Linked DNA regions of Homo sapiens: all the other regions are linked to region 2. The links come from fine-mapping of genetic effects on plasma protein levels. A gene starts in region 2. Each other region holds a variant in brackets. All regions are shown on one strand. Distances are from middle to middle.

Region 1 (2,761 bases), 11 kb after region 2:
GCCAAGTGCCTGCCCTCAGGGGGCTTATGTTCTAGTGGAGAAGCCAGACCATAAACAGAGAAGCAGGTGATAAGGCTTAGGGACACCACCAGATTTAGGCTTTCACAGGGTCTCACTGGCCTTTGTCTACAGGGAGGCAAACATAGAAGTGGGGGAGAGGGGGAGTGAGAGAAGGAGTTGTATTTGTCCAGATCCTTGGAGAAGCAGACCCCAAGGTGGGATTAACGGGATTATTCATGCAAGGGTTTTATTAGGGGAAATGCTCCTGTGAGGATAACTAGGGAGGCAGCTGCAGGGAGGCTGGGAGAGCCATCAGACTGAGAGACTGAGATGCAAGTGTGACCCCGAGTGACAGGGTGAGGGACAGAGACTTGAATGGAAGCACCTGGATAACCATGCACTTGAAGGAACACCCATCATGGCTGTTGGGACCTTCCATATCTCCCAGGAAGGGGCCTGCCTTAGTTTCCTGGATGCACTCAGGTACTGGCAGGGTGCAGCCTGTGGAAGGGCTGGGAGTAGATTTGGGGGCACAGCAATTGGGCCCTTGGTCAATTACATTTCTGCCGTTGGAGGTCTTTGAAGAGCTTCTCCTGGTGGCCAGAGTTGCGCAGCAAGAGATGATAGGGCTGGACCAGAATGGCAACTGTCGGGTGTTGAGAAATGGTTGCACTGTGGATGTATTTTGAATATGCTGCTGACTGATATTAGGTGAAAGAGAAAGAAAGGAGTCAAGAATGACTGTAAGGTTTATTGCCTGAGCCACCGAAAGGATGTAGGAGTCACGAACCAAGATGGAGAAGATTGGGGGAGAAGAGGTTTCTGCAGGGAGAGAAAGGAGGGGTGCACTTTCATACATGCGAAGCAGTAGGGAACACAGAGGTAGGGGTTGAGTACATGTCTTTGCTCCTCTTTACACTTCTCTGTTGCTCACTCCTCTTTCCTTTTCAATTCAGTCATTAAACCAAAAATATATGTTTTGTGCTCTCTCTGTGCTAAGCAACATGTTGGGCATTTGATACTTGACATGATTTTCAGCTTTCACAGCCTGCTGGGGATGGGGAGGTCACTAAGCAGGCAGATAAAACATAGCATGATAAATGGGACCCCGGGGGACAAAGGGAGGGTATGGGGAGCCCAAAGGAAGCCTCCATCTGGGGGATGTTGCAAAGGGTCATCATGAATGGGGATGTCCACCATAAGAGCTGAAGGATGAGTAGGAGTAGGCTGCTTAGAGCAGAGTCAGGGAAGAGCATTCTAGACAGAGGGAAGAGAGTGTGCGATGGCCTTGAGGCAAGAGAGAGTGTAACAAGGATGGAATCTCCGAGTGGGATTTAATTCCTGAATGAGAGCAAGAGGTGTGGAAAGGTGGGGCTGGAGGGGGTCTGTAAGAATCAAATTGTAAATGGCCTCTTCAGACATAGGCTTTGTCCCAAGGGCACTGGGGAGCCACAGAGGGTTCTGAACACAGGAGGGACAGTGACACTTTAGTACTTAGGAAGACTTCTCTGGCTGCTGTGTGGAGGATGAGACTGGGATGGGGAGACCAGGAGGAGCTGGGATGCAGGTGAAGGATCCAAGTGTCAATGGGGTCAGGATGGGGAGAAATGAGCAGGTTCAAATGATGTTTAGGAGGGAGCAGAGTCAGGGTATTCCTCCCCTCCTAGAATGTCTC[A/G]ATTAGCAACCTTTTGCATCCTTTCCAGTATTTTACATTAATTTAAATAAAGTATGACTCTTAAACTCTTTTAGGTTTTTTTTTTTAAATAGAGACAGGGTCTTACTATGTTGCGTAGGCTGGTCTTGAATCCCTGAACTCAAGTGATCTCCCTGCCTCAGCCTCCCAAAGTGCTGGGATTACAGGCATGAGCCTCAGCCCCAGGCCTAAACTCTTTTAATTTATATGAGAAATCCAACAACTACTTTCATTTGTTTCCTTCTTATATGTGGTGGAAGAGAAAAGTGACAATGATCCCCTCTGACATTACAAAGAAAATTTGCACGTGTTTATACCATTGAGAATACACAGTACTAGAAGTTAGGGATTATATACACAGGACGCAGCCACAATTTCCCTCCTTTCCTTCCTTCCTTCCTTCCTTCCTTTCTCTCTCTCTCTCTCTCCTTCCTTCCTTCCTTCTTGCCTGCCTGCCTGCCTGCCTGCCTGCTTTCTTCCTTCCTTCCTTCCTTCCTTCCTTCCTTCCTTCCTTCCTTCCTTCCTTCCTTCCTTCCTTCCTTTCTTTCTTTCTTTCTTTCTTTCCTCTTTCCTTTTGAGTCTCACTCTATCACCTAGGACGGAGTGCAGTGGCACAATCTTGCCTCACTGCAACTTCGGCCTCCCAGGTTCAAGTGATTCTTAGCCACTCGAGTAGCTGCAATTACAGGCATGTGCTACCACATCCAGCTAGTTTTTATTTTTATTTTTCAGTAGAGACGTGATTCGCCACACTGGTCAGGCTGGTTTTGAACTCCTGGTCTCAGGAGTTCCACTCACATCCACCTACCTCGGCTTCCCAGAGTGCTAAGATTACAGGTGTGAGCCACTGCGCTTGGCCTAGCAACAATTTCTGATGCCTGGGTGACCTAAAACACTTCTTTGAATTAACTTTTACAAAGGCAGTTTTTTTTCTTTTTTTTTTTTTTTTGAGATGGAATCTTGCTCTGTCGCCCAGGCTGGAGTGCAGTGGCATGAGCTTGGCTCACTGCAACCTCCACCACCCATGTTCAAGCAATTCTGTAGCCTCAGCCTCCCGAGTAGCTGGGA
Region 2 (2,761 bases):
CCAATTTCAAAAACTTTTCACATGCTGCTCCCCCTGGCTCACCCCTATGTTGTTCAGGTCTCAGCTACCATGTCCCCTCTTCCAGGAAGCTCTCCCTGATCCTGAAGCTGAGCCAGGCGCCCCCTTTGAATTCCTCCATCCCAGCCCTGCCCACTCTGGGTTGTCACTGTCTGGGGACAGTTCTGTCTCCCCCACTGGACTGTGAGCCTCTGTGAGAACAGGGTTGGGGCTGTCTTAGTCAGAGCTGTGTCCCCAGTACCACCAGGAGCAGGGGTCAGCATAGGAGAGAATTCAGGACTGGGCGCGACGGCTCACGTCTGTAATCCCAGCACTTCGGGAGGCTGAGGCGGGCGGATTGCTTGAGCTCATGAGTTGAAGACCAGCCTGGGCTACGTGGTGAAATTCCGTCTCTACTAAAAATACAAAAATTAGCTGGGTGTGGAGGCGCACGCCTGTAGTTGCAGCTACTAGGCAGGCTGAGGCAGGAGAATTACTTGAGCCTGGGAGGTGGAGGTTGCAGGGAGGGGAAATCATGCCACTGCACTCCAGCCTGGGCAACAGAGCAAGACTCCATCTCAAAAAAAAAAAAAAGGAAGAGAATTCAGGAAGTATTTGTTAAATTAATGGATGGATACATGGATTAATGATAGTTCCCTCAGCTGGTCGGTTCTGTTAAATCTTCTGGGTCTAGGTCTATACACTGTCAAAGACCACCAGCTTGTCTTGTCATAGAGATTTTTTTTTAAGTAACTTTTATATATGGAACCTTTACTATGTTCTCGAAGTTTCAGCTCAGATGTCCACTCCTCCAGGAGGCCCTCCCTGCCCCTTCTCCCAAGACCACGTCAGGCTCCTCCTGGAGGTCCCCCAGTCCTGCTCAGTCTGAGATTCCTGCCGGTCTGACTCCAGAGCTTTTGTTTATGACCAGGATCTATATCACAAGCATGATTCCGGCTCATTTAATATTTATTGGCTGCTTATAATGAACTTGGCACTGGGACTGGTTATTAAGCTCTCGGGGACAAGGAGCTGGTCATTGTTGTTTTTTATTATCATTGCTATTGACTATCGTAATCGCAGTTCCCGGTCTCCAGGGTTCCTGGACTTCCCGCTCTTTGTGCTGGGCAGGGAAGGAAAGTGAGCCCTGGGGGTAGAGGGCAGAGGTGGGGTCAAAGTTACTTTCCTGCCACCACCCCTGTCTGTCCTGGGAGCTGCAGTTACTGCAGTGTGTGTGTGAGTTTGTAGCAGGGTGGGAGAGGAGAGAAGGGAGGTGGAGGGGCTGCACCTGGAGTGAGGACTGTATCTGTGTGTGCAAGCCGGGGCGACAGACGGCCTGGCACACTGAAGTCAGGTGCCGGGACCCATGGGGCCTGCTGACTCATGGGGACACCACTGGATGGGAATCCTGCTTTCAGGTGAGTGCCCTGCTTCCTTCAGATGCGGGAGGAGGGAGGTTGTATGCATCTATTTGTCAGCGGTGTGTGTGTGTGTGTGTGTGTGTGTGTGTGTGTGTGTGTGCACTCGAGGAAAAAGAGATGGAGGCAGAGAAAAAAAATAGAGACACAGAGACAGAGACAGAAATAAAGACAGATACAGATATAAAGATAGGGCCAGGCGTGGTGGCTCACATCTGTAATCCCAGCACTTTGGGAGGCCGAGGTGGGTGGATCACTTGAGGCCAGGAGTTTGAGACCAGCCTGGCCAGCATGGCAAACCCCCGTCTCTACTAAAAATACAAAAATTAGCTGGGTGTGGTGGTACACTCCTATAGTCCCAGCTATTTGGGAGGCTGAGGTAGGAGAATCACTTGAACCTTGAACTCGGAGGTGGAAGCTGCAGTGAGCTGAGATGACACCATAGCACTCTAGTTTGAGTGACACAGCAAGACCCTGTCTCAAAAAAAAAAAAAAAAAAAAGAAAGAAAGAGAGAAATACAGAAATAAACATAGATACAAAAGAGATAGAAGGAGACATAAACAGAGACCAGAGACAGAGAGACAAAGATATATGTATATTTGTCAGTGGTGTGTGTGTGTGTGTGTATACTTGAGGAAAGAGTGACAGAGGCAGAGAGAGAAACAGACACAGAGAGACAGAGACAGAAAAAAATACAGATGCAAGAGACTGACAGAAGGAGACATAAACAGAGACCAGAGACAAGAGAGAAAGACAAAGATGTGTGTTTGTGTGTCTGTGTACACAGAGAAAGAGAGAGAGACAGAGAAAGATGGAGTCACAGCCACAGAACCAGAGACCCAGGGAGAAAGAGAGAGAAATACAGGGAGAAGAGATACGCACAGAGACAGAGACAAAGGGTGAAAAAATAACCTTAGAAATGATACCAGTGGGGCCCAGGCACAGTGGCTCACGCCTGTAATCCCAGCACTTTGGGGGGCCAAGGCGGGTGGATCACGCAGTCAGGAGTTCAAGACCAGCCTAGCCAAGATGGTGAAACCGTCTCTACTAAAAATACGAAAATTAGCTGAGTGTGGTGGCGGGCACCTGTAATCCCAGCTACTCGGGAGGCTGAGGCAGATAATTGCTTGAACCTGGGAGGCAGAAGTTGCAGTGAACCGAGATTGTGCCATTACACTCCAGCCTGTGTGACAGAGTAAGACTCTGTCAAAAAAAAGAAAAAGAAGAAAGAAAGAGGGAAAGGGAGAGAGAGAAAGAAAGGAAAGAAAGAAAGGAAAGAAAGAAAGGAAAGAAAGAAAAGAAAGAAAGAAAAGAAAGAAAGAGATACCAGTGGGAAAAACAGGAA
Region 3 (2,761 bases), 32 kb after region 2:
AGGCATGGGCAGTCCTAGGACCCTGATTCTGCCTGAGGATGCCCAGGTGTGTGGGGGGGAGCAGCTGCAGAGGGGCGGGACTGTGTCAGGCACCCCTTGTGCACACACACCGGTGTTTGGTTGGGAAACAGGAGGCCGGAGATGAGTTTTAGACAGAGGGTGCTGGGGTCTTTGTGTGATTGGAACCCTGATCACAGCCTGATGGTGCCCAGTTTGGTGGAAAGACAGGATCTTCCTGAGCCACAGGTGCCCCCGAAAGATGTTTGGTCAGAATCTGGGCAGGTGTGGCTCAAGCAGGGGGCTGTGGAGTAAGGTGGAGGAAACAGTTTGGGTGCAATTTCAGGAAACAGCTGCATTGTGAACCTACGCTATGCTGCGTGAGAATATGGTGGGAGCAGGGGAGAGAGTAAGTGGGAGAGATGGAGTGCAGAGGGTGGGGTGCCTAGGGTAGGATTTGCCCTCTAGTCTTGGATCCCAAAACACCTAGTTGGTACAGAGGCACCTGAGCTTCTGAGACATGTATTTAGAGCCTGGGTAGGGCTGCTTTTGTCTGGCTTGTGCTGGTGTCTGTTGGAGGCCCCCAGCCCTATGCAGGCCTTGTTGTAGTTTCAGGCCTGAGTATACCCAAGTTGGTGGAGGGACTGGTTTAGAGCTACAAATTCAGGGCCTGGGAGGGTGTTAGGGTGGGAATCTGGCTGGTGCTGTTCGAGTAGGAGCCAGTGGACCCCAGAAGTGTGGAGGGAACAGGATGTGGGTATAGCTGAGCTCTGTGCATAAATGCTTGGCTATTTGAGCAGGATGTGGGTGGCCCTCTGTGCTGAGTTGCTGGAGGGACAGGTCTGGCTGATGGAACGGTAGGATCAGTCTTAGTTGTTGAATCAGTTCCTGGGAGCAGTGGAGCTGTGTCACCAGCTTCATGCAGTTAGGCAGTGAGTGTGATTCTGGCCCTAGGAAGAAGTGCTGGTTTGGGGCTGTAGATTGAGGTTGGTAGGGGTAGGATGGGGTGAACACCAGGGGGTCCTCAATATGCCTGATATTTGTGGGGATCCCAGGGCCCAGTGAATAGGAGAGGGATGGACTGGTGCTGCAGACTTTGGTGGTGGGCAGAAGGCCATGTTGGGCACAAGCTGGGCTTACAGGTAGATGGTCCAGGGGCCCAAGATGGTGGAGGAACCAGGTTGGAGCTGCAGAAACTTG[A/G]CCTGGGAGAGGGACTGAGGGACTCTCAGTACATACACAGGTATTTGGGCAGGAAGCTGGCAGGAACCTCCAGAAGTGCATTTGCTATGGGAATGCATCCTGCATCCTGGGAGCAGGGGCTAATGGGGGTGGGGGGCCCAGCGGTTCCGGCAGACCTACATCTTCATGCTGTACTTGGGGCTTCTCTCAGTGCAGCTCAGGACCTCAGCACCCTGCTGTGCCTGGAGGAGAGCATGGAAGAGCAGGATGAGAAGCCCCCAGAGCCCCCGAAGGTCTGTGCACAGGTGAGTGGAGACCCAGAGCTTGGGTCTGTCTGCAGCCTGACCCTCTCAGCTTGGGAGGCTGTGGCTCCTCCCTGACTCTCTTTGCAGCCTTTTAGGGGGTTTGAGGCCCTCATGGCCATCAGGCTTCTAACACTTACTATATATTTTATGAATCTCCCTGCTAGTTGCCTCACCTTTTTAGCCCAGATAACTCTTTCTGGAAGGAATTTGGCATCCTGAATCAAAAGCCCTTAAAATGCTGATTCCCTTTTGGCCAGCAATTCACAGCTTTGAGAATGAACAATTGGAAATATACTAAATGTGCAATGTAAGAGGATAGCTGAATGAATTACGATAAGACCATGAAATAGAATACACTGTAGCCATTGAAACTGATGATAATGCAAATTTAATGACAGAAAAAGTTATTTATTACCTATGTTAAGTAAATTGCACTTAGAAATCATCACTTTTTAAAAAGAGATATAGTTTTTGGGTATATAGAAAATATGTTAGAAGACTATAAATATAGCAATCAGTTAACAAACATTATCTGTAGTTGTTTTATCATTTATTTATCTGTATTTTCTTTTTCTTTTCTTTCTTCTTTTTTTTTTTTTTTTTTTTTTTTTGAGACAGAGTCTTGCTCTGTCGTCCAGGTTGGAGTGCAGTGACACAATCCTAGCTCACTGCCGCCTCAAACTTCTGGGCTCAAGCCATCCTCCTGCCTCAGCCGCCTGAATAGGTGGGACTACAGGTGGGCACCACCAAGCCTGGCTTATATTTTTTGTGTGTGTGTATTTTAAAAATTTTTTGTAGAAACGATATCTCACTATGTTTTCCAGGCTGGTCTCGAACTCCTGGCTTCAAGCCATCCTCCCACCTCAACTTCCCAAAGTGCTAGGATTACAGATATAAGCTACCACACCTGGCTTGTATTTTCATATTTTTGTACAGTACACTTTAAGGTAAAAATATTGACAATTGGCCAAGCACAGTGGTTCACACCTATAATCCCAGTACTTTGGGAGGCCGAGGTGGGAGGATTGCTTGAGGCCAGGAGTACAGGACCAGCCTGGGCAACATAGTGAGACCCTGTCTCTATAAAAAATTTTAAAAATTAGCCAGGATAGTGGTGTCCACCTATAGTCCCAGATACTTGAGTGGGTGAGGTGGGAGGATCGCCTGAGCCCAGGAGGTCTAGGATGTAGTAAGCTATGATTGTGTCACTGCACTGCAGCCTGGACAACAGAGTGAGACTCTGTCTCTAAAAAACAAGTTAACAATTTAGAACATTTCCC

Direction of the effects. Alleles are on the strand shown, and positions count from the first base shown. The strength of an association depends on the size of the effect and on how common the allele is.
With allele G in place of A in region 1, the plasma level of the protein whose gene starts at base 1,198 in region 2 is lower (strong association).
For the plasma level of the protein whose gene starts at base 1,198 in region 2, A is the low allele of the variant in region 3 and G is the other (strong association).

What was found. PIP is the chance, under the fine-mapping model, that this variant and not a neighbour inherited with it causes the effect. The UK Biobank Pharma Proteomics Project read protein levels with antibody pairs (Olink). The fine-mapping took linkage between variants from a reference panel, not from the people measured, so its PIPs are less certain.
Region 1: its variant is fine-mapped to the plasma level of the CEACAM20 protein (UK Biobank, PIP above 0.99).
Region 3: its variant is fine-mapped to the plasma level of the CEACAM20 protein (UK Biobank, PIP above 0.99).

What each region holds. Positions count from the first base shown.
Region 1 is chr19:44,517,578-44,520,338 of GRCh38, reverse strand. The region is part of intron 5 of CEACAM20 (CEA cell adhesion molecule 20); the gene reads left to right. Among named protein-coding and RNA genes, the nearest start is that of CEACAM20, 11 kb to the left of the region's middle. The variant A/G (reference allele first, on the strand shown) is at 1,676.
Region 2 is chr19:44,528,112-44,530,872 of GRCh38, reverse strand. CEACAM20 (CEA cell adhesion molecule 20) reads left to right here and starts at 1,198. Exons shown (of 12, transcript NM_001102597.3): 1 at 1,198-1,415. The coding sequence starts at 1,364.
Region 3 is chr19:44,496,004-44,498,764 of GRCh38, reverse strand. It overlaps ZNF180 (zinc finger protein 180), which reads left to right. Exons shown (of 5, transcript NM_001278509.3): 2 at 1,388-1,481. The coding sequence starts at 1,431. Among named protein-coding and RNA genes, the nearest start is that of ZNF180, 3.1 kb to the left of the region's middle. The variant A/G (reference allele first, on the strand shown) is at 1,198.